Linked DNA regions of Homo sapiens. The protein of the gene in region 5 purifies or fractionates together with the protein of the main gene of each other region. This does not show direct contact. Each region holds a gene or a part of one and is shown on either strand. Other genes may lie near its edges.

The links.
Region 1: the proteins of TPST2 (region 5) and INTS2 purify together in Homo sapiens (affinity purification with mass spectrometry; one large-scale study listed by BioGRID and IntAct). This does not show direct contact.
Region 2: the proteins of TPST2 (region 5) and KDM8 purify together in Homo sapiens (affinity purification with mass spectrometry; one large-scale study listed by BioGRID and IntAct). This does not show direct contact.
Region 3: the proteins of TPST2 (region 5) and DYM purify together in Homo sapiens (affinity purification with mass spectrometry; one large-scale study listed by BioGRID and IntAct). This does not show direct contact.
Region 4: the proteins of TPST2 (region 5) and RMND1 purify together in Homo sapiens (affinity purification with mass spectrometry; one large-scale study listed by BioGRID and IntAct). This does not show direct contact.
Region 6: the proteins of TPST2 (region 5) and ARHGAP29 purify together in Homo sapiens (co-immunoprecipitation; one large-scale study listed by IntAct). This does not show direct contact.
Region 7: the proteins of TPST2 (region 5) and ADPGK purify together in Homo sapiens (affinity purification with mass spectrometry; one large-scale study listed by BioGRID and IntAct). This does not show direct contact.

Annotation. Positions count from the first base shown.
Region 1 is NC_000017.11:61,893,483-61,896,982, reverse strand, and holds part of INTS2 (integrator complex subunit 2), read left to right. Parts: intron 1-1,599; coding exon 1,600-1,668; intron 1,669-3,083; coding exon 3,084-3,218; intron 3,219-3,500. UniProt on the Homo sapiens protein: Component of the integrator complex, a multiprotein complex that terminates RNA polymerase II (Pol II) transcription in the promoter-proximal region of genes.
Region 2 is NC_000016.10:27,206,526-27,210,025, reverse strand, and holds part of KDM8 (bifunctional peptidase and arginyl-hydroxylase JMJD5), read right to left. Parts: intron 1-3,500. UniProt on the Homo sapiens protein: Bifunctional enzyme that acts both as an endopeptidase and 2-oxoglutarate-dependent monooxygenase.
Region 3 is NC_000018.10:49,377,146-49,380,645, forward strand, and holds part of DYM (dymeclin), read right to left. Parts: intron 2,614-3,500; coding exon 2,520-2,613; intron 1,556-2,519; coding exon 1,422-1,555; intron 1-1,421. UniProt on the Homo sapiens protein: Necessary for correct organization of Golgi apparatus. Involved in bone development.
Region 4 is NC_000006.12:151,414,127-151,417,626, forward strand, and holds part of RMND1 (required for meiotic nuclear division protein 1 homolog), read right to left. Parts: intron 3,274-3,500; coding exon 3,153-3,273; intron 3,146-3,152; exon of another isoform or gene 2,955-3,145; intron 1,423-2,954; exon of another isoform or gene 1,292-1,422; intron 1-1,291. UniProt on the Homo sapiens protein: Required for mitochondrial translation, possibly by coordinating the assembly or maintenance of the mitochondrial ribosome.
Region 5 is NC_000022.11:26,531,133-26,534,632, forward strand, and holds part of TPST2 (protein-tyrosine sulfotransferase 2), read right to left. Parts: intron 1,614-3,500; coding exon 1,563-1,613; intron 1-1,562. UniProt on the Homo sapiens protein: Catalyzes the O-sulfation of tyrosine residues within acidic motifs of polypeptides, using 3'-phosphoadenylyl sulfate (PAPS) as cosubstrate.
Region 6 is NC_000001.11:94,227,585-94,231,084, forward strand, and holds part of ARHGAP29 (rho GTPase-activating protein 29), read right to left. Parts: intron 1-3,500. UniProt on the Homo sapiens protein: GTPase activator for the Rho-type GTPases by converting them to an inactive GDP-bound state. Has strong activity toward RHOA, and weaker activity toward RAC1 and CDC42. May act as a specific effector of RAP2A to regulate Rho.
Region 7 is NC_000015.10:72,756,259-72,759,758, forward strand, and holds part of ADPGK (ADP-dependent glucokinase isoform 4 precursor), read right to left. Parts: intron 2,032-3,500; coding exon of another isoform or gene 1,807-2,031; intron 190-1,806; coding exon 1-189. UniProt on the Homo sapiens protein: Catalyzes the phosphorylation of D-glucose to D-glucose 6-phosphate using ADP as the phosphate donor. GDP and CDP can replace ADP, but with reduced efficiency.

The DNA.
Region 1 (3,500 bases), on a different chromosome or scaffold from region 5:
ATGTAAATACACACATAGGCACCCACATGTATCTCTTCATACACCTGTTGGATTATTTTCTTAGGATAAATTTCTAGAAGGTAATTGCTAAGGAAAAGTGTATGACTATGTTAAGGTGTTTCATGAGTACTGTCAGATTATCTTTTCGAAAGATTGTATCAGTTTAACTCTTACCGTTAGTAAGAACTACTGTTTTTCTAAACTTTCAACATGACTGAGCATTACTATTTTTTTTTAATCTTTGCAAATTTGGTTGATGAACAGTGGTATCACTTAGTTTGAATTTCTTTGATTACTAGTGAAACTTAGTATTTAAAATTTATGTGTTTTGGCTTGTTTATTTCTTTTGTGAAAAGCTGATCAGTATCCTAATTTTCCTGTAGGGACTTTGATTTATTTTTTTCTTTCACTGATTCAAAAGGAAAGATATGTCATTATGCCTTATACATCTTACTTCATATATTTCAAGACGTATATTTTACCCAGTATTGAAATTGGGATTCATTTTACAGTTGACATGTAATATGAAAGTGGTAGTGTTCCAACTCCTACTTTTTTCTTGAAAAGCTACTGTAATATTAAATCAGTGACATATCTTATAGTATCTTTAAAAGTGGAGAGTTCAATATGTTATAATTGACTTTTTCCAGTATTTTTTGCCATTTAACTTCGCCATGTGGAAATTATTATCATTATTATTTTTATGTAGTATATTAAATGTTTTTTTTTTGTTTTTTTTTTTTGAGATGGAGTCTTGCTCTGTCGCCCAGGCTAGAGTGCAGTGGTGCGATCTCGGCTCACTGCAAGCTCCGTCTCCCAGGTTCATGCCATTCTCCTGCCTCAGCCTCCCCAGCAGCTGGGACTACAGGCACATACCGCCACGCCCGGCTAATTTTTGTATTTTTAGTAGAGATGGGGTTTCACTGTGTTAGCCAGGATGGTGTCGATCTCCTGACCTTGTGATCTGCCCTCCTCGGCCTCCCAAAGTGCTGGGATTACAGGCGTGAACCACTGCACCTGGCTGTAAATGTTCTTTTTGTGTTTTCTATTTTGCTCTTATGCTTAGAAATGTTTTCCTTTCTTGGGTTTATATAAGTGGTCACTTATATTTTCTTCTAGTTTTTTTTGGTGGTTTCATGTTTTACATTTGAACATTTTAATCTACTTGGAGTTTCTTTTGGTGTATGGTGTGATATGTGCAAAAAGTGTATGTGTGTCTATCTGTACATATACATATATACATATATTTGTGTGTGTATATGTGCGTATATACAGACACAGACACACACATACACACACACACATATTTCTCTTGGCCTCACAGAGGGGCAGCTATCCTAGCTCCATGTAGTAAATAATCTGTTTCCCCCAACCGACTGAAAATGCCAATAATAGTATTTATTAAGTGCTTTTTATATTGGTTCTGTTTTTGAGTATTAACACTTTAATGTTGGGTTTGGGAAAGCACTTCTAAAACAGAGTAGAGTACTTGAACATTTGAACATTTATGTGTATCATAGCCATTTTAGATAAGTTCCCTAGAATAAATTGTGTTTCATATATTTTTACATGCTGTTGGAATTCTTTTGGTAATTTTAGATTGTAATTAAGCCAAGCTCCTTGAGCAGGATGAAGACAATCTTCACACAGGAAATTTTTACTGAGCAGGTATTTCTTTTTATTCTTAGGTACTTATTTAACTTTCTTTTACAATATTCTTTGGGAGAAAACTTGTGTGTCTTACCTTAAGAAAATAATATGGTCTTTTTTCTTTTTAAACTCATGATGATTTATTTCATCTTTGAAACTTTCTTAAAGAATAATCCATTTAAAATACACTTTTAAAACTAGTCATAACATACCAAGGCATCTTTTGAATTTATGTATTTTTGGAGACTTTGAGTAGATACTTAGGAGAATACTCTTAGATGTTGCTGGTAGGGCATCTCAAGGGGTAATTGTTTTAATGTGTCTGGAGAAAGATAAAATGAAGTCCTATTTAAACCTTTAGGCTGTAAAATTCATTTCTAACTAGATTACAGGCTAGAGTCTAAATTTCTTATACTTAACATGTTCTTCTTTAGCCTTAGCACTTTTGTCCATGGATAAGCATAAGGATTTTTTTCATTTCTTTTTTTTTTTTATCTCACTTTGTCACCCAGGCTAGTATACAGTGGTATGGTCATAGCTTACTGCAACCTCTGCCTCCTGGGTTGGAGCAATTCTCCTGCCTCAGCCTCCCAAGTAGCTAGGATTAGAGGTGCACACCACCACGCCTAATTTTTGTATTTTTAGTAGAGATGGGGTTTTACCACGTTGACCAGGCTGGTCTTGAACTCCTGACCTCAGGTGATCCACCCACCTCAGCCTCCCAGAGTGCTGGGGTTACAGGCATGAGCCACTGCACCCGGCCAGTTGTTGCTTTTTTGTGGCTATTAATATCTTTATTTCTATATTTTACTATCCCTCCCACCCTCAACACGCATATGCACATATACTCCTGAATTACAAGTAGTCACACAGCATGTGGGAGAATCATAAGTTATTTTTTGTCTTTAAATTTGAACCAATTGGAAGACAACTTTGAAGAGGGTCTTTAAAAGACGATTAGAGCCTATGCATGACATATTGAGAATAAATATTTCTGTTTATATTTATGTGGTGCTTTATAGTTCATATGATGTTTTTCCAAAAAGAATATTTTCCCCCCATAACAATGCTTTGAGGCAGGTATGGCAGTGTCCTGTTTTGTAGATGTGAAAAAGATTCAGAAGATAAATGACTTCTTCAAAGTCATTGAGCCCAGATTGTATGCTTCAAAATTTTATTTTATTTTTTTACCTTATCACACCACTGTGTATGTATCTATGTTTATAAACAAAAAATTAGGGAATTATATAAATCCCTAAATGTACATTTCCTCAGCATTCAAAGACAATTAAAACATGTAATAATTTATTTTCATCATTCATTTCTAGGGACCACACTTGTATTAGGTGTTGACAGTCTACTTACTAATCTCTCTTTCAAAATAATTTTATATTTAGTTCTATTATATTACTAATGCTATTTTTCCCTTTTAGGTTGTCACAGCTCATGCAGTTCGGGTCCCTGTCACCAGCAACCTGAGTGCCAACATTACTGGATTTTTGCCTATTCATTGTATTTACCAGCTTCTCAGGAGCCGTTCCTTTACCAAGCACAAAGTGTCAATAAAAGTATGCCCCTACAAATAAAACAAAATAAAAGCATGCCCCTACATTTTTATATATATATTTTTTTTCTTTTGAGATGGAGTCTTGCTCAGTCACCCAGGTTGGAGTGCAGTGGTGCAGTCTTGGCTCACTGTAACCTCTGCCTCCTGGGTTAAAGTGATTCTCCTGCCTCAACCTCCCAGGTAGCTGGGACTACAGGTGTGTGCCACCATGCCCGGCTAATTTTTGTATTTTTAGTAGAGACAGGGTTTCACCGTGTTGGCTGGCTGGTGTCGAACTCCTGAC
Region 2 (3,500 bases), on a different chromosome or scaffold from region 5:
CTTCCTGCATCTCATCTGCGAGGATTTTTCAACAGCAGTCTTCTCTGTTGGGCAGAAGCTCTGGAGGGGAGGGCCCTCATCTGTCTGGGGTCACCACTGTATCTTCAGGGCCTGGCGCAACACCTGGTACTCAGCAAGCACTGGATAAACGTCTGTTCAGAAAGGAACGTGTATTGTCCTCATCTGCAGTGCCTCCCATACCCCTCCGCTGCCTGGCAAACTCCTACCCAACCTTTAAAGCCCATCTTAAATATCCCTATGTGAGGCCTGCCAAGACTCTCCAACAGTGTTCTGTGTTCCTGCAGCCCTTGAGCTTCTCTTACAGTACTCGTCAGGATGTATGAAAACACCTGCTTACACGTGTGTCTATCCAACACTGCACTGCCAGCTCCACCAGGGCAAGAACGTAGCTCATTCCCCTACGTTTCCCAGAGCCTAAAAGCAGAGTCTGCCTCATGGCAGTCACTCAGGAGTGCCAGGCTTTGAAAAGTATTCGAGAAGGCCGGCATGGTGGCTCACGCCTGTAATCCCAGCACTTTGGGAGGCCGAGGCAATTGGATCACTTGAGCTCAGGAATTCAAGACCAGCCTGGCCAACATGGCAAGACGCCGTCTCTACAAAAAATACAAAAATTAGTTGGGCACGGCGGTACATGCCTGTGGTCCCAGCTACTCAGGAGATTAAAGGTGGTGGGATCACTTAAGCCTGGGGGCAAAGGTTGCAGTAAGCCGAGATCATGCCACCAGCCTGGGTGACAGAGCAAGATCCTGACTCAAATTAAAACAAAAAAACAAAAATGAAGTGACTTGCCCCAAGGCCTACGGTCAATCATTTGTGCAGAAGCAGGGCTTAAATTCTGGCTGATCTCAGCACCCTCTCCTGTGCGCCATGTCAATGCTGCATGCTTGACATAGATTAACACGTCCCTTGCAATCCTATGATGGGAGTTTTACAGATGAATAAACTGAGATTTCGAGGTTAAGCAATTTGTGCCAAACTACACAGTAAGTGGCAGTGTCTGCCCAGAACACTCATTGCCTTCAAGGGTGAGCTCTTTGGACTTTGTATCCACAGGGCTGAGCTTATAATGAGTTCATTTCCATTCTTGGTTCACAATGAACTTTCTTTCTAGCAAGCTCAGGGTATGGTAGGGCTCAGAGAGCCCCAGCCTGCCAGGGTGGGTTCTATCTCTAGCCTCCTAGAAGGCTTGTGTTGGCCTCATTCACAGCCTTCTTGGAGCGTTTCACAGTCCAATTTCCAGCATGGACTTATCCACTAGGCCAGCACAAGACACCACATGGGCCCATCCCTGGCCTCCCTGGGTGGCCTCCTGGCTCATCCCGTGTGTGGCTTACATGAATCTTATAGAGCAACATGGAGAAGTCTCATCTTGAGCATCCAAAAGACCTCAGGGGCCTCATATCCTGGCTTCTCATAAAGGCCAGTGGAAAGGCCTCCCAGGAGACCATTTATTGCCCTACTATAAAACTGGCTTCCACTGGGGCTCTATGTACCAGCTTTGTAAACCTGTCTCTTGATGGCCTTAGAAAACAGCCTCCCAGAGGGTTTCAAATGGGCTATAAACCTGTTCTCTGCAATGCAGATTACGGGCTTTGTAAATTGGTGTTTCAGGGTGACCTTATAAAACGGCCCCTCACAGGGCGCCTATCAGCCTTACCAAGCCAGCTTCTCAAGGTGGCCTCACGTGTGCGGCTTTGTAGCCAGGTTCCCCCAGTGGCCCCGTGTCTGCTTTGTCACCTGGCCTCCCAGGGTGGCCTCATGTTTGGTCTTCATAGGCGGCCTATCTGCTACTTTGCAAATCGGCCTTGGAGACCTCATGTTGAAGGCCAATGGACACAGCCTTCTGGGAAAGATGGCCTCCTAATACTGTGAGTTGGCTGTACAAAACTATCTGCTCTTGGCCACATGAAATAGCCTTATGATTATTCTTTAATGCAGAGTTCTTCAATGAACGGCCTTATCAAAAGGCCTTCAGAGATACTTACGTTGACAATATATGATGGTTTTCCAGAGACAGAGGCTTCAGGATGGCTGTATAAGTTTGTTTTCAAAATGGCTTTTCAGATTGCCTCTGTATAAGCCACTTGAAATGGCCTCCCCAAAGGCCTCAAGATTATTATACACTATCCCCCAGCAGGGCACCTATAATCCCAGCTACTCGGGAGTCTGAAACAGGAGGACTGCTTGAGCCCAAGAATTCGAGACCAGCCTGGGCAACATGTAAAGACCCTGTCTCTAAAAACAATTAAAAAATTAGTTAGCTGGTCATGGTGGCACACACCTGTAGCCCCAGCTACTCCGGGAGCTGAAGCAGGAAGATTGCTTGAGCTCAGGAGTTTAAGGCTGCAAGTGAACTGTGTTTGTGCCTCTGCACTCCCATCTGGGTGACAGAGTGAGACCCTGTTTCAAAAAATAAAACTATAGCCTCCTACAAGGCCTTATGTTGGCAGCATGGTGAAGTGGCATTCTGGCCGCATCAGTCTTCTGCCTTGTTGCATAGGCTTCCCCAAACCTCTCATGATTTGGCCTTTTATGTAGTTACCATATCAAACAGCCACATCCTGGTATAGGAAGCAGTCTTCCAAAGCAGTTTTGTGAGATGGAGTCTTGCTCTGTCACCCAGTCTGGAGTGCAGTGATGCGATCTCGGCTCACTGCAAACTCCACCTCCCAGGTTCAAGTGATTCTCCTGCCTCAGCCTCTGAGTAGCTGGGACCACAGGCACGCATGCCATCACGCCCGACTAATTTTTGTATTTTTAGTAGAGACGGGGTTTCGCCATGTTGGCCAGGCTGGTCTCCAACTCCTGACCACAAGTGATCCACCCACCTCAGCCTCCTAAAGTGCCGGGATTACAGGTGTGAGCCACCACGCCCGGCCCTTGTAACTTGTTTTAAAAACTGGCCTTCCTATAGATGGGGGCTTGTCTGAGGACCAGGTGAAGTCAGATTTTGTCTTAGTTTTACAAATCGATCTGTGGTTTCTTCATTGTGCCAGGAAAGAATTGTTTGTTGTGTCCATCTACCCCGCTGGGAGCAGCCTCACATTGGCTCCTGTTAGCCATGCAAAATGGCCTTACAGAAGGAGTCTTGGTCTGGCTGGGGAAACACTCTCTTGCTGGCTGTATGAAACAATCTTCCAGGGTCACTGGCCTCATGGGCTATGAGAAGCAGCCTTCACACCACCAACCACTTGAGATGGCCCTCCTGGGAAGGTCAGGTGCGAGCCACAGGTCACTGCCTTTCTGAATGGCCTCAGGTCCAGGCTCATCAGCCTTCTGGCATTTCCCATATACTGGTCTGATAAAAAGGCTTCTTGTTGTATCAAGAGGTTTTCTAGAGGAAAGGACTAGCCAGAGTAGCCTTATGGCCTGGCTTTATTGATTGGCTTCCCAGAACTCCTCACTGAATTGCTGTTTATAAAGTCTTATATTAAGGCCACGTGCATCGCTCACGCCTGTCATCCTAGCACTTTGGGAGG
Region 3 (3,500 bases), on a different chromosome or scaffold from region 5:
AATGATATAACCAGAATTTCCATAAGATTTTTGCCATCTAAAAATAGTTTTAAGAAATGCTTGAATGCACAAAAGGTTAACTTTCCACAGAATCTTTTCTACTTCCCCATAATATTGTTTTTAAAAATTCTAGGCCGGGCACGGTGGCTCATGCCTGTAATCCCAGCACTTTGGAAGGCCAAGGTGGGTGGATCACTTGAGGTCAGGAGTTCAAGATCAGCCTGGCCAACATGCTGAAACCCCATCTCTACTAAAAATACAAAAATTAGCTGGGCTTGGTGGAATGCACCTGTAGTCCCAGCTACTCAGGAGGCTGAGACAGGAGAATTGCTTGAACTCAGGAGGCAGAGGCTGCAGTGAGCCAAGATCGCACCACTGCATTCCAGCCTGGGCAACAGAGCGAGACTCCATCTCAAAAAAAATAAAAATAAAAATATAAATAAAAATTCTATAATAGAATTTAAGAAATATTCCCCATAGACATGGATATACTGAAAAATCAGTACATTGTGATGTTGACCTGGATGAACAGTAACTCTTTTATACGTTTGTTTCCCTTTGTCAATATTTGACTTTGACATTTAAAAACACGTATTTAGCAACACAGTTGAAACCACAGTGAAAAATTACTCCTAGGTATATGAAAGTGTTATTATACATATGCATGAAATCCACATAGCACACAGACCTCCATTAAAAGTATACACATCTCAAAGTTCTCTCCCAATACCTGTTCCCACAAGAGATGTTAACATATGACCTTGAATCACACAGGTGACGCTGTCAGCCTGATGAGGGCAGAGATCTATTTTGAAAACAGAACTCGGAAAACTATGGGGCAACACTGCCTTGCCCTCAGAAAGGAAAGATTGTGTGAAGGGTAATCTTTCCCTGTATCTTCAGAAAAAGATGAGACACTTTGGCATCATAAAACTGTCCTTGAAAATGTTACTTCTGATAAAGTGTCGTAGTCCCAAAGACACTCAGACCCAGAAGCTATTGCTGCACGCTATGAAAGTAACCTTTACCATAAAATCTGACTAGTTGGCTCCCTTAATAATATATTGACTTGGCAATGATATTTAAAACTGACACCTCTGTTTTCTGAAAGAAATACATATTTGTGTGAGTTTTATTTTTTATATTACTTTCTTCTTCATCCACATGCATGAAAGTCAAAATAAATGAAAGCTTCAACCCCACCAGCTTTCTTATTTAAAACGAAAAACAAAAACAAAAAACGCTTGAGTCTTGACTCATTTAAATTAACACAGAAAAAGAAAAAATGACAGTATAAGTTCATTTTAAAATGAAAATTATAAGGATAACTGGAATTTTCAAAATCATACTTTTATTCCTGAAATTTTATCCTTAAATGTTACACATGATATATCCAGAACATCTTTAAAAACAATACTTACTGTAATTGCCAGGAGATTTTTCTTCATAAGTAAAATGAAGTTGTAATTCCTCCTCTGACATCTGACAGATGAACACTTTCAGCAAACAGCAAATAATAAACAAAGCATTGTGTGTCTGCCAAATGAAGATGTGGCTAGAAAGACCAAAATCATACAAGAATCAATATTTAAACATAAGCACCATAGTTTATTTCTAGTTCATGATTTCTTCCTGATTTGACAACCGTTTTGTCCATCCTATTGGTAATATTAGGATAATGTCCATATCTTTTAATGGCTCATGATTTATTTCATTGTACCAGTGATATTATGTTTTACTTCATAGTTCATTCCATGTACTTTACATAGTGAATCTACTTAATAAAAATCTTTACTGATGACTGTAGGAATGACTGTTCTTTGTTCTTAATAGGTATACCACGTACATGCGATTAAAAGAGAAGAAAGCTACCAAAAAATTTAAAAAATTGTGGTAACATAAAAAGAATATATGCAAATATGTAACCAAAATTTTCGACGAGGCATTGCCAGCAGCACGGTAAAATACTTTTTATTTGTATTAATGACCATGAACTCCCAAGAAAAACTTTATTGGATTCAATGTAATTTGTTTATAAGCAAGACAATGCAAAATATTTTAATCTTTTCAGAGACTGACATCCAAACATGGTTTTGAAAAATGCTTCAGTGCATAAAAAGTTAACCTTCCATTGATGTAAAGAATATAACGGAAATAACTGCAACAGATGTAGAATGAAATAAAACTCAGACTAAGTCATCATTTAAACTAGATAGCAGCAGCAGTGATAATGGGGGGGAGGGGAATTACCTTCTTAACGATAATTACATCATTATTCACCTTCTTAAAGAATATAATCTAAAGATTGTCTAAAAAGCTGAAATCAGATTCCCGAATCTATAATCTCACCCCAGTGACTTAGACACTAACCTAAAACCTCTCTACCTTTTTTTCTTAATAATGAGAATAATTCCTTCACAGAGATTTTCAAAAGACCACAGTCCATTTCCATCAATAAATGAAAACTAAAATTCACATTGTTAAATATAAAGCAAACATGGTTTAATTAGCCAGCTTACTTCTGACATTCTGCTGAAAGTTTTAGTTCTTTGGTTCTAGAAAGGAAGACCTTAATTAGTGCACCAAGATTTCCTGTTCGAGGATTGTTTTCAACTGCAAGAGAAGAAAAGGTTTTAAAAAGTTAAATTTAAGAACTAAAATCAAAGTGAGCTTATCATAACATTTATAAAACCAAATGTCATATTAAAATTGCTCAGTGACCAACTTTACTGTTAATTTCATACCTAATTAGAGAACTAAGCAATGAGAGAAACTGCTGCTCTTGGTCTTAATTCTGAACATCAAAAACTGATTTGCAAAATGAAAATGATAGAAACAGTACAAGTAGCCATCTTATCTCAGAATCCAAAATCATAAAGGAAAAAATAGTTAATAGACACATTCAACTTACACACTAAATCTTTCTCTAGAAAGGAGATTTTTAAAAACTCAAAAATTGATTATCTATGTCTCCAGTATATAGAATATAATAAACTATAAAAGTTTATTAAATCTAAAACACTCTTCAGATTACAAATCATTTGAATGAAAAATTAAGAAAACATATCAACAAAGCAGTGTGGCTAGAAGGGGAGCTATTTGACCAGACAAAACTTTAAAGAATTTTTTTTTAACTTTAAACGATGGGCATTTCAGCAACTGTATCAGGAATCAGAAGATTTAGTTTCTAGATCCAGGTCTATAATTAACTGAATACTGAATCTCAGACAAATCACTGTACTTCTCCAACCTCAGTTTTCTCATCTGTAAAAGAAACAACAGCTAACATATGCTGAACAACATAGAGTAGGTGCTTTACATGCATTAACTCATTTAATCCTCACACCAACCCTCCAGGAAAAGCACTAGTATCACTTGCATTTCACCGATCCTCACCTGGAGGTTGTTACTTGCTCAAGGAAACATCCTTATCAACTGGCTCAAATCTTTGACTTTAAACTGCTAGGTTGAAGCAACCTCTATAATCAAGAAATTGGACT
Region 4 (3,500 bases), on a different chromosome or scaffold from region 5:
TGGCGTGATCATGGCTCACTGCAGCCTCAAACTCCTGGGCTAAAGCAATCCTCCTGCCTCAACCTCCCAGGGTAGCTGAGACTACAGGCACATGCCATTATACCTGGCTAATTTTTTTAAAAAAAAGGTTAGTAGAAATGAGGTCTCATTGTGTTTCCCAGGCTAATCACTTATTTTTGATGTGATACAAGGTGAATGTGGGGATTGGTAGGAAATATGATTGAAAAACAGAAACAATAGGAAGGACCTTGTATATCAAGCCAGAACACTTGAGGCAATGAGGGAAACTGGAGGTATTAAAATTAGTTGGAGGGAATCAGAAAAGACAATCAGTAGACACTAATATCAAGAGGTATCTGAGGTTAGGTATTATTAGATGATGTTAGAGCAACCATCATAAAAATGATTCAACAAGCAATTCTGAACACATTTGAAACAAACGAAAAAGCAGGAAGTCTCTGCAAAGAAACAGAAGATACAAATAAAAAAACATGGAAATTTTAGAACTGAAAAATATAATAAATGAAATAAACTCAATGTTGGGCAGCAGAACGAATGTAACAGAGGAAGGAATCAATCAACTAGAAGATGAAACAAAGGACATTACCCAATCTTAACAGAGACAAAATATACTGGAAAAGAAGTGAACAGAGCCTCAAAGACCTTGTGAAATGATAATAAAAGATAAAATGTAGATGTCATAGAATTATGGCAGATTTCCGTCAGAAACCATGGAGGTCAGAAGGAAGTGGCATGGCATTTTTCAGGTGCTGAAAGAAAGAAAACTGTCTACCTAGAATCCTATTTCTAGGAAAATATCCTGCAAGAATGAAGAGAAAATTAATACACTCTCAGATGAAGACAAACTAAGAGAATTTGTCTCACTAGACTTACCTTAAAAGAATGGCTAAATAAAGTTCTTGAAAAAAAAAAACAGTAAAAGAAATCTTAGAAGATCAGAAGGAGAAAAGAACAGAAAGAATAAAAACATGGGCACATACAACAGACTTTGCTTTTCTTAGTTTTCTAAATTATGTTTGATGGTTGAAGCAAAAATTATAACATTATCTGATGAAGTTTTCTATGTCTGCAGAAGAATAGTTAAGAAAATTATAAATACGGAAGGGTAAAGGAATATAAAAGAAATAAGAATTCTTTTTTTTTTTCTGCATCCAATCATCCATTAGGGAAATAAAGATTCTATACTTCATTTAATCTGCAAGATGTTGAAATCAGTAGATTGTAATAAGTTATATACGTAAGATGTAATAACCAGAGCAACTACTAAATATCTATGCAACGAGATATATTAAAAAGTAACATCAAAATGAAATACCAAAAAATTGTTTCAGTAACCACAGGAAGACAGGAACTTTGATACAAGCAACAATTTGGATGGATCCAAGTTGAGGGCATTATGCTCTGTGAAAAAAGCCAGTTAAAAAGTCACATACAGATCGAGACCATCCTGGCTAAACACAGTGAAACCCCATCTCTACTAAAAATACAAAAAAAAATTAGCTGGGCTTGGTGGCGGGTGCCTGTAGTCCCACCTACTCAGGAGGCTGAGGCAGGAGAATGGCGTGAACCCGGGAGGCAGAGCTTGCAATGAGCCAAGATTGAGCCACTGCACTCCAGCCTGGGCAACAGAGCAAGACTCCGTCTCAAAAAAAAAAAAAAAAAAAAAGTCACATACTGTATGACTATCTATATAACATCCTCAAAATGACAAAATTATGGAGATGGAGAAGAGATTACTCACTGCCAGGGGTTAGGGACAGTCCGGGTAGGGGGAGGGCAGTGTGACTATACAGGGTAGCATGAGGAAAAGTGATAAAACAGTTTTGTGTCTTTTTGTTTTGTTTTTTTTGAGATGGAGTCTCGCTGCAACGCCCAGGCTGGAGTGCAATGGCATGACCTCAGCTCACTGCAACCTCCACTTCCTGGGTTCAAGCGATTCTGCTGCCTCAGCCTCCCGAGTAGCTGGGACTACAGGCACGCGCCACCACACCCAGCTAATTTTTGTATTTTTAGTAGAGACAGCGTTTTACCATATTGGCCAGGCAGGTCTCGAACTCTTGACCTCAAGTGATCTGCCCACCTCTAGCCTCACAAAGTGCTGGGGTTACAGGCATGAGCCACCGCACCTGGCACAGTTTTGTGTCTTGATCATGTGGTTGCATGGATCTATAGATGTGGCAAAATGTCACAGAACTATGTGCACACATTGTACTAATGTCAATTTTCTGTTTTCTATGCTCTTTCCCCATGTGGTCTACCTCCATCACTACAGCTTTTTTTTTTTTTTTTTTTTTGAGACGGAGTCTCACTCTGTCATCCAGGCTGGAGTGCACTGGCTCGACCTTGGCTCACTGCAACCTCCACCTCCTGGGTTCAAGTGATTCTCCTGCCTCAGCCTCTCGAGTAGCTCGGACTATAGGAGAATGCCACCATGCCTGGCTAATTTTTGTATTTTTAGTAGAGACAGGGTTTCGCCATGTTGGCCAGGCTGGTCTCAAACTCCCAACCTCAGGTGATCCATCCGCCTCAGCCTCCCAAAGTGCTGGGATTTCTTAATACACGTCTCTTTTCCCGACTTTGCTTCTGCCCTTCTAAATGCCTGCATGACGGAGCTAATTGGATATCTTGTTGCTACTCTAATCTCAGCATATCTTAGATTTAGTCTGTCACCTCCCCTCTCTGACCTCTCATTATTGTTTTTCCACCTTTCTACTTGTCACCTCCAGGCAAACATCAGTCATCCTTTATTCTTTCTTCTCCATGGCCTCTTATTACCCATCACTTGATTTGTCTTACATGATTCTTTCTTAAATTTATTTCTATTCTCACTGTCACCATGACAGATCAGAAGCAGTCATGAACTCTTGCTTGAAACTTGACAAGAACTTACTGATGGACCATTAGGCTTCCAAACTCTCATCTTATTCACCAACCTTATCTAGTCTGTAGAGCTAATATCAGAAGATCCTTTGACACAAAAAATTGAAGTGACTGTACAGAGGACAAGAAGGGGAAATATAAAGAGATTTGAATGGAAGTCAAACAAGATATTTCTCTGCAAGCAGTTAAACATATTCAACTTATAGGCGACAACGTGTCTTTTTCTCTCATTAGAAGTGCAAAATACGTACCTTAACTCTTCGGCCAATGCTAAGGAATTGACACGTTTTATCGTAAAGTCCTTCCAGGTTTTCTCTGTCCCAGTAGAAATCAGGAGTAATCAGGAAGTCTGAACTCAAGTTTATACGGTGCCTTTAAAAAGGAAAATTATAACTTTTTATTTATCTTGAATTAAAAATCATTGTTTCTATTGTATTTAATATTTACATAGTGCTTTATGAAAACTTTTTTTTTTTTGGTAAGAGAGAGGGTCTTGCTATGTTACCCGGGATGGAGTGCAGTGGTGTGATCACAACTCACTGCAAACTGAACTCCTGGGCTCAAGCTGTTCTCCTGCCTCAGCCTCCCATGTAGCTGGA
Region 5 (3,500 bases):
GAAGGAATGGCATACCCCCACGCTCAGGAGGGCTGCCCTGCAGATAAGTTTTGTCAAGCCTCTATTTCCAACCCTCATCTCCCTACTGTCCTCCACTGTGCACATAATGTCATTCTGGATGTTGTAAAAACTGGAAATGGTCTTGAAGAAGCTGTTTAGTAAATGGTAGCACATGCATTCCACAGAACACTACGTAGCCATCCAAAATGGTGCCGGTGAAACTCAAAAGATAGGAAAATATTAAGAAAGCAAAACAAGGCAGTTTGAACATGAAAATTGCAATGAACATTCCTGTAAATCACATTGGGGTAGAAACAAAGAAAAATATAATTGCAACGAATGCAAAAGTGCATACGCACTCCAGAGGTTTCGGCCACACTCCCCACTTTCAGGCGTTTACAGTTCCCTCTGCCGGGAAGCCTTTTCTATCCAGATCTTTGTGTGGCAGACCTAGTTTTAATCCTTCAGATATTGGCTTATGGGTGCTTTCCAATATCAGTGACCAATTCTCTGATTATCTGGATACCAACTGGGTGTTCAACAATTCAGTTCAGTTCTGACACCAGCTCCCAGACTTACTTAGCATCAGCTGCCACAGATTAAGGGCCCAGTTCCACGACTGCCCCACTTTAGATGCCAGCTGCAATGGGGTGCGCAGGCTATCCACACTTCTTCCCAGCCAACTTCAAATCTGGAGGTTCCCACAACCCCCACTCTGGTTTGATAATTCACTAGAACAGCTCACAAGACACTAGGGAAAACACTTTACTAACTGCTACCTGTTTATTATAAATAATACAACTCAAGCTTGGACAACATGCCAAAACCCTGTCTCTACAAAAAACACAAAAATTAGCCGGGCATGATGGTGTGTGTCTGTAGTCTCAGCTTCTTGAGGGGCTGAGGTGAGAGGATTGCTTGAGCCCAGGAGATTGAGGCTGCAGTGAGCCATGATCACACCACTGCACTCCAGTCTCAACAAGAAAGAAAGCCCAAGAAAAAGTCCCCACGAAGTCCCTCCAACTGCATTCAAGCCGGAAGACGAAGTGAGAGGCTGCTTCCTGGCAGAAGGGCCACTGAGATGTGGCCCCAGCTGGATCAGTGCTTAGAGACCCTCTGGTCCAGCACGCATCCCCACAGCCCTTTATTTTTTATTTTTATTTTTTGAGATGGAGTCTCGCTCTGTCGCTCGGGCTACAGTGCAACGGCGTGATCTCAGCTCACTGCGACCTCTGCCTCCCAGGGTCAAGCGATTCTCCTGCCTCAGCCTCCCAAGTAGCTGGGATTACAGGTGTGTGCCACTACGCCCGGATAATTTTTGTATTTTTAGTAGAGACGGGGTTTCACCGTTTTGGTCAGGCTGGTCTTGAACTCCTGACCTCGTGATCTGCCTGCCTTGGCCTCCCAAAGTGCTGGGATTACAGGCAGCCAGCTCACATCCCCCTTTTTATAATGGGAAAACCATCAACCAGAGTGGAGAAGTGACACATCTAAGGGCATACAGCCAGATGGTGGTATAGCTGAGAAAGACAGAATTCGGAATTCCCCTTGGGGTTTCTAACCTGAAAATATCCTTTCAGATTGGCTGGTGTTTTATAGTCCCCTTTCAAGACCTAAGGAAGAGAAAAAGAAATATCACTATTATGAAAATGGCCAAAAAATAAAATTTAGTCATTCCCAACACATCCAGTCATCCACCCATCCACCTCGCCACCCACCCATCCCTCCATCCAACAAACATTGCTTAAGCTCCTCTTCTTCTAGGCATTATTCTAAGCATTGTGTCTGGTTGACATGATGTTAACCAGATAATGGAAATTCCTGTTCCCCTGGAGCTACCATTCTAGAGGGGGCACCAGATAACATACAAGAAAAATAAACACAGATAAACAAGGACATAGCAAACCATGGGAACTGTTGTGAAAAAAGTACAGTAAAGAGGTGGGATTAGGAGTAACCAGGGGGCTTCTTTTGAGTGGGTGGTCAAGAGGGGACTCTTGGGCCAGGCGCAGTGACTCATGCCTGTAATCTCAGCACTTCTGGAGGCCAAGGCAGGAGGATCACTTGAGTCCAGCAGTTTGAGATCAGCCTGGGAAACACACTGAAACCCCATTTCTAAAAAATTAAAAATTAGCTGGGCATGGTGGCATGCACTTATCGTCCCAGCTGCTCTGGAGCTACTCCAGCCTCAGCTGGAGGATTGGTTGAGCCCGGGAGGTTGAGGCTGCAGTGAAGTATGATCACATCACTCCACTCTAGCCTGAGTGACAGAGCGAGACCCTGTCTCTAAGAAAGTGAATAAATAAAAATAAAAAGGGCCTCTTGAAATAGATAACCTTTGAGCTGAGACCCAAACGACAAGGAAAAATAGGTAGGCTAAGCTCAGAAGAAAAAGCACTCCAGGCAGAGGCAACAGAGCAAAGGCCCTGAAGTTAGAACCACAACATTTCAGGCCTTTCCGCTAGTAGTCACATTTTAAAATAAAATGAAACAAGGGAGATTAATTCTAACAATATCTTTTATTTAACCTGATATAGCTAATTTTTTTTTTTTTCTATTGAGACATGGTCTCACTCCCATAGCCCAAGCTGGAGTGCAGTGGTGCGATCACGGCTCACTGCAGCCTCCACTTCCCAGCCTCAGGTGATTCTCCCACCTCAGCCTTCTGAGTAGCTGGGACTATAGGCACGTGCCACCATGCCTGGCTAATATTCAATATTTTTAGTAGAGATGAGGTTTCACCATGTTACCCAGGCTGGTCTCAAACTCCTAGGCTAAGCAGTCTGCCTGCCTTGGCCTCCAAAAGTGCTAGGATTATAGACATGAGCCATCATGTCCAGCCTATGTAAAATATTAACATTTCAATATGTAATTTATATAAAAGTGACTAATAAGAAACGTTACATACTTTTTTGTCCTAAGCCTTCAAAATCTAGTGTGTATTTTACACCTAACAGGACCTCTCACTTTGGACTAGCCTCCTGTTACAGAATCAGGGGCCACACATGGCTAGTGGCTACCGTATGGGACACTGCAGGCAGAGACGATTTCATCAGCATAGATGTCCTTTTAGCCACTGTGTTTACTGAGCCCCAGGATCCATTATTGGAACACACAGGGTCCACAGCACTCACAGAAGCACACAGGCATGCATGCAAACTCACAGGGCTTAGTGAGAGGACTTTTCTTTGCAGTAACAGCCAAGCTATGGCAAAAACTAAACCAGGGATCTAGCACTTGCCAAGACTTGTTGACCGCCCCAGGGAAGAAATCTCTTTGGATGAAAATGAGAGACAGCTTCCATTTTAAATAAACAAACACAAAAAGCTCCAAAGAGTTGATGTTAACCACCAGTGCTCATGAAAATTATTTGTGTTTTATAAAATACATAAAGTCAGGCTTTACTCCAGGAACGTCCGACCCATAGCCTGGGGCAAGCCAGGGGCAGCGAGCCACCTTTTAAGGAGACCCCAGAGGAGCCACTGCTGGGCCCTTGGCTG
Region 6 (3,500 bases), on a different chromosome or scaffold from region 5:
TTTATACTATTCTTTCTAGCCCAATTAAAAGGCCTTTACATTTTCCACATTCCCAGATTTTAGCTTCCTTGAGTGATATTCCACATGAAAATGGGGAGGTATGTCACAATGGCAGACTTTAAAAATTATTACATAAACTTGAAAAGCACTTATGAATCTGTTATTTAGAATTTAGAACACGTTATTCCACAGGGAGGAAACCATAAACCTGAATTGGTACTTACACTGCACATATATTAATCTACAGTGTTATAATTAAACACAACATGCATATGCATAACTGAGTGCCTTCAGCATTTTCATATAAGATAGAACATTTACCTTGTAATTACTCCTAATGTACCTTAATGACACTGGATAAAAAAACTAAAACTTCAAATTCCACATCTGCTACTTGTATAAGACTACAAGGTAACCTCCTCCTGGAGGTTAAGTAGTGGAAAGAGAATTACCAAACTCTGTCACTTAACTTACCCCAGCAAGAATAGAATATTTTCAGCCCTCTAATCTTCCACATTAAGCTCTCTATTTTAATTTGTAAATTAGAAAATTAGAGATAAACCGTATATGTATCTTAACCCTGTTGGGAGTACAGAGCTCTTTGGCAGACATTTATATTTTTTCTAATCAGTTCCTCAATGACGATTACAATATGAGCTTCATATTCTCACTTGGGAAATTTTCATTAATTTGTTTTCATATAATTTGAAAACAAATACTTAGCTGTCTTCTTAGGAATAAACTGCCAACATTCAGAACAATGTATAATCTCCAACTCTAATCAAATTTTGAATCACAGATTCGTAAAACTGATAGCATCTGGTACAAGTGCCTCATTCTTAACAAAAAATTAAATGAATTAAGCCATATTCCAAAGCTAGTCAGTAGAACTAGGCCTAGAACCTAGATTCTGATTCTCTTTTCAGAGCTTTTGCTGCCATCCTTTACTACCAATTTAACCAAACCATATAACCTGGCCATTATTTATCAGCAATAAGACATTGATGAAATCAAAAGTTATACATACATCTCATCTGTGAAACGGAGCTAAAGGTACCTGCCTTTGAGGGGCCTGGGTGATTAAACTTGTTTGTATGACAAAGTACTCTGTAAAATGAAAAGCGCCATATACAATTATACATCATTTCTAACTACTTGGGGAAAGTAAAATGTGGCCATAAACCAATCACAAAGCTGTTTATCTAAGACTAGCCTCAACCTATGATTAAACAACTGCGGCAAAAGTCAAGTGACTGCACATTAGTGCTTCAGTTAGTAATAAAGGTATTAACAGATAAAAGTTATTACAGAAAAAATGTATTCTGACTAAACCAAAAGATGATTTAATTGTATATCTACATTCTTTATTCTTAAGAGCTGCCTTTTTAGCTTAACAAACGTGAATTAAAAGGTAATAAACAATGCCAAAAATATGGCATCTTCCTCTTAAGGAGACAATACACAAAATATTGGGAGGGCTACTGAGAAATTACTGACAAGGCTCTTCCACTCTAAAAGAAAAACAGTGAATGAAATGGCTCTTTGCTGTCTGGCCACACTTTAACGTTGTGGTGATAACTCAGAAAAGAAGTCCAGGGATATTTCTCAATACCCAGAGACAAAAAGCAGGGCTCATGACTATAGGGATACATGTAATAATACCATCTTAAATAGTTAGAGCATTTTAAACATTTTACCTTTCCTAAAGATTACATCTCATGAGATCTTTGTAATACTTTTATTAAGTAAATAAGGAATAGTCTGATACTCTAAGCTGAAAATCATCAAAATTAAAAACAAGCACAATATTATGTAGCATTTTCCTTATCTTTTATAATGAGGTCCATTTATGTTTATAAAACAAAAAGGTTCCATCAACTCAAATTAACTAGTTTATTTCTAGATTTTGATAACGATATTTCAAAGACAAAAAATCAACCCAAAGGTAAATAATGAACATCCTCTGGCCACTGCATACTACTGAGTTGGTTATCAAAAAAACAGTTTATCTATTTTGTAATTAATTTCCTGGCCATAAATTGCAAACTTTTTGATAATGTCCTTATGAATTTTTAAAATTAAATTTCAGTGTATGTATTTCCATACATATCCCTTTACCTCAGGGGGTAGTCTCTTTCTGTATCTTATTTTTTTCTTTTCTCACTTAGGGTCAACTTTCAGTTGACCTTCAGTATTCTCTGAAGTGTCTGCTCACAATTTAAAACTCTTATAAAAATTTTTTTTGGAGATAAGTAGTCCAGCTTGTTTTAAATTACTATCATTTTAAATCTGTGACACAAGGATAATTATGTAAAATGAAGATTTTTAAGAGATATAAATCTTTTAAGGAAAATAACTAAAAACAAATAGAAATCTTAACTAAAAATCTTATTTATACTAATAAAAATGCATTTAAATTGAGGCATTAAATAAAATCAGGTTTTACACCTTAAATCAAGGTAAATGACTTGTCAACTAATACATCACTTTAAATTTCACCTTAAAAATCAATCCAGTTAATGAACTGCATATCAAGAAGTATACATTTTATTGTTTATAAATTTAAAAAATTAACCTAGTTAAGAACAAATTGTTATTACAAAGCTATGTTTCTTTAAATAAATGGCAAATTTATCATTTTGGTAAATTTACTACCATTATAATACTTAATGTAGTTAGGATATCTTTCCACAATAACTTTAGGTAACTTTACTGCCATTTAATCATCCACAATCAGACTTCAAAATCAAGCTATTAAAATGAATGGGAATATGAACAACTTTTCTAATATGTATACATTCTCAAAAGAATCACTTATGTGATTGTTGTTTTAAGGAAAACTCAAATACTAAAACTTTGAGGCTTCAATTCCAGTCATTTTGGGCATTTCAACCTGAAAATAACAGATTAGAAATTAACTCTTAAATTTAGTACAAGCACAAGATACAATTTTGGTTTTTCAAAATGTCCATCAGAAAATAAGTATTTAACTTATATATATACATAGAAATATTTATTGAAATCTTACAAATTTCTATAAAGCCCCAAGAGGTCTCATATAAATAACACTGAGAATCTTCATTTTTATATCTAGACATACCATTATGAATATGGAAATGAAACTGCCATTTATCATAGAAGAATAGGAGCTGTTTTTGTAACTATTTATTATCCTTGCCATCAAATTTAGACCTAAGAGGCACTAAACATTGAAAGACAGGTACTAAGAACAAGTCAGAGATATACAATCTTTTACTTTAGAGGAACAGAGTCTCATGCTCCATTATTCATTTCTAACTAGACAGAATTCTGTGATTAGCCCTTAATTCAAGATGTTACAGATCAGCAAAACAGAATTAAGTCTGATTTTTGTTAAAAAAAAAAAATGCAGTCATTTTAGATACCAAAACTTCATCTAAAATGTGGAAAGGTGAATTTAGGTAACAGTGTCAACAATGTAAATTATAAACATTAGTCAGCTTATTTAAGACCAATCAATG
Region 7 (3,500 bases), on a different chromosome or scaffold from region 5:
GTCTCTTCCTCTGGAGCTCCTTGCTTTGTCCCTCCATCATGTGCAATCCAGAGAGGACCACCAGGTCTGGCTGAAACTCCTCCAGGCTAGACACAAACACCTCCAGCATATTCATGGCCCCGTTGGAGAGGTCGTGAGAGAAGATGAATCGGTTGGCATGGGGAGCTTTTAACTGGCCCCACTCCTCCCCTGGAAAAACCCAGTCAACACAATGGGAAGAAAAGGAAGAGGCTTTAGGTCTCCTAGCTGTGGGGGCACTTTCAGGCACCTCACAGGAGCCTTGGCTCCAAGCAGGCTGGTTTCTGGCTGAGGAGACCCCAGCAACAATGGCCTAAGGTCAGCATGGCACTGCAAGAAACAAACCAAAAACCTAAACCCAAACCCAGCCAAGAAACAGAAACATAGTATGGGTGCTATATGCCTTTTTCAAGGTAATTAGCTCCCCCTGAGTCCCAGGAGAGCCCTACTTGAGCTCTCAAACACAGGAGAGACAGTACAGAATGGCAGCATGACTTCCAAATACCAGCATACAGTGTGCAGCACGCACGCCCTGCAGACAGTATAGGCTGTCATTGTTTAAAGCACATTCTTCCTCACAGCATTGCCCTGAGCATCTTTCATTCAGTTGGAACTTAAGCAGGCTGAATTTCTTCCCAACAGCCAAGCTCACTGCATCTCCTCTTCCCTGCTGCCCATCAGTGGTTTCTGGGCACCTGATCCAAAGGATCAGACTATCTAGCTGCTCCAGTTGCTTCTATGTGAGTTGCTTTAGAGGAATGACTGTTTAAAGACCCAAGTTCAAGTGCTAGTTCCTCCCTAAACATGAAGCCTTTCCTAATCCTACCACCCCTAAGCAGACTTGATTACCTCCTTTCTGGGGCCACCACTGTACCCTAATACAGGACTGAGGCACATGATTTTGCAATTCCTTTTTCTTTTTTCCTTTTTTTTTTTTTTTTTTCTTCTGAGATGGAGTTTCACTCTGTTGCCCAGGTTGGAGCGCAATGGCGCGACCTCAGCTCACTGCAACCTCTGCCTCCCAGGTTCAAGCGATTCTCCTGCCTCAGCCTCCCGAGTAGCTGGGATTACAGGTACCCGCCACCACGCCTGGCTAATTTTTGTATTTTCAGTAGAGACGGAGTTTCACCATGTTGGCCAGGCTGGTCTTAAACTCCTGACCTCAGGTGATCTGCCTGCCTTAGCCTCCCAAAGTGCTGGGATTACAGGCGTGAGCCACCATGCCCGGCCTGCAATTACTTTTTCCAAGTGTCTATCTCTGGCAGTAAACTGTGAGCTGAGGGCAGGGCCTGTGTCATCCTCTGTCGTATTCCTTCTGCATCATGCTGTGTCTGGCATATAGCCATGGGAATGAATTAACAAAAGAACAAGCAAATAAGAGAACAGACTGATGACCTAAATGCCCATGACAACAAAAAATATGGGTATGAACCCCAAATCCAACATTTTGCAAATCAACAAAGACTCTGTACGATGGGAAAAATACATTACATTGACATTCTCCAGAGAGCAAGACGTGGACTCAACCCTTGAATAGTGACACTGCTAGGAAACACGACCTAACTGAACCTAGGAGAAAGGAGCCACACTGTATTGAAAATACACTGATTTCTTCAGGAAGTGACAGAGGCAAAAATAAACAGGCTCTTCTGCAAGGCAAGGATGAGAAGAACCGTGCAGAGCTGCTTGCTGTTTCCACAGGAAACAAGGCAGCAGATGCCAAGAGAGGCTGGAACCTGAAGAAAACCACCAGCTGAGATCTGTGAAATTCTGTAACAGTGCCATTACCTCCAAGAGTCTCTTCCTCTGGAGCTCCTTGCTTTGTCCCTCCATCATGTGCAATCCAGAAAGGACCACCAGGTCTGGCTGAAACTCCTCCAGGCTAGACACAAACACCTCCAGCATATTCATGGCCCCGTTGGAGAGGCCATGCAGGGGGCAGATGCAAATGGATCTAATTCTGCCTGTAATGGTAGTTAGCGCCCCTCTTTCCTCACAAAGTGTTGTATTCATTCCTGTAAGCAATCTCTTCTCAATGTATCATCCTGCCCTCAGCCAGTAAGTCAGCAAAACCTCTGCGTAGTGACTCACTGGATTCCCAGCCCAAGCCTGACAATGGGCTTCTCTGGGGAGATCTGGTAAGAGAGAATGTGGAAAAAAAAATGGACAAATCCCTTGGAATTTCCCTATTGAGGTCAGAGACAAGCTGGGAATGGATTTCTGTTGAGAGAGCTGAGCCCAGGGCTACTGCCACTAGACTAGGCTCCCTCCTTGGACCTAGGAAAATGTCACCTCACAAAGTTTAATGGAAGTCCACTGCTTTGTATGCAGAAGAGGCATAGGAAAGAAAAACTGAAGTGTGAAGCTTATAAACCCAAGGATGGAGACACTCTCTTTGTGCGGTGAACTGTGCTGTCTCCTTAACTACATACGAGGCACAGCTGTCCAATACAACATCAAAGTCTTGCTGAAGACGTAAGACTCTCCACTCTGTAGTCACCAGGAAAAATGACAAACCAGGAATCACAAAGGTCCCCAGTTCCTGCTGTGGGTGCCAAAAAAACTGACACGAATCTGGAACTCATGGCAGCAATACCTCAGGGGCTCATCTTTAGCAATTCCAGACCCTTCCAGTCCACAGTCAGGTCATTCTTTTATTTATTTATTATTATTATTTTTTGAGACGGAGTCTCGCTCTGTTGCCCAGACTGGAGTGCAGTGGTGCAATCTCAGTTCACTGCAACCTCCGCCTCCCAGGCTCAAGCAATTCTCTGCCTCAGCCTACTGAGTAGCTGGGATTATAGGCGCCCGCCTCCACACCTGGCTAATTTTTGTATTTTTAGTAGAGACGGGGTTTCACCATCTTGGCCAGGCTGGTCTTGAACTCCTGACCTTGTGATCCACCCGCTTCAGCCTCACAAAGTTCTGGGATTACAGGCATGAGCCACCACGTGCGGCCAGGTCATCTTTTCATCCAAGCTGCTCACAATGTTTCCGCACACCAACCAATCTCTTAATCCTTACCACAATGATCAGGCAGTAAAAACTATTACTCTTACTTCCCATTTGGGAAAACTAAAGCTGAGAAACTCAAAAACTTGTGTAGCATTAAGTATGAATTGCCTACGTCAACGCTGTGTCCCTAATTTTCAGACCCTATCCTTCTTTAATTCCCAACTGATTCTAGTAAGCACCCGAAAGAGAACCAGAACATGTTACAACTCTTTTTTCTACCTGGAGAAAGGCATAATTCTCAAGAAATAACATAGTTCATATCTTATGTTAAAGTTAATTACTCTAGTAGAGAAGATTCTCTTAATTGACTTGGAAGTAGTTCACTGAAGAGTATTAAGTGCTGCTTTAAGGTACCAATTAGTCTGTTTAGATGCTTGAGTCTTTAATGTGTATTAACAATGTGTTGAATCAGAAACTCAAGAGTCTGAGTTCTGAGCAGAGGGAAAATTACAGCAGGAAATACACAG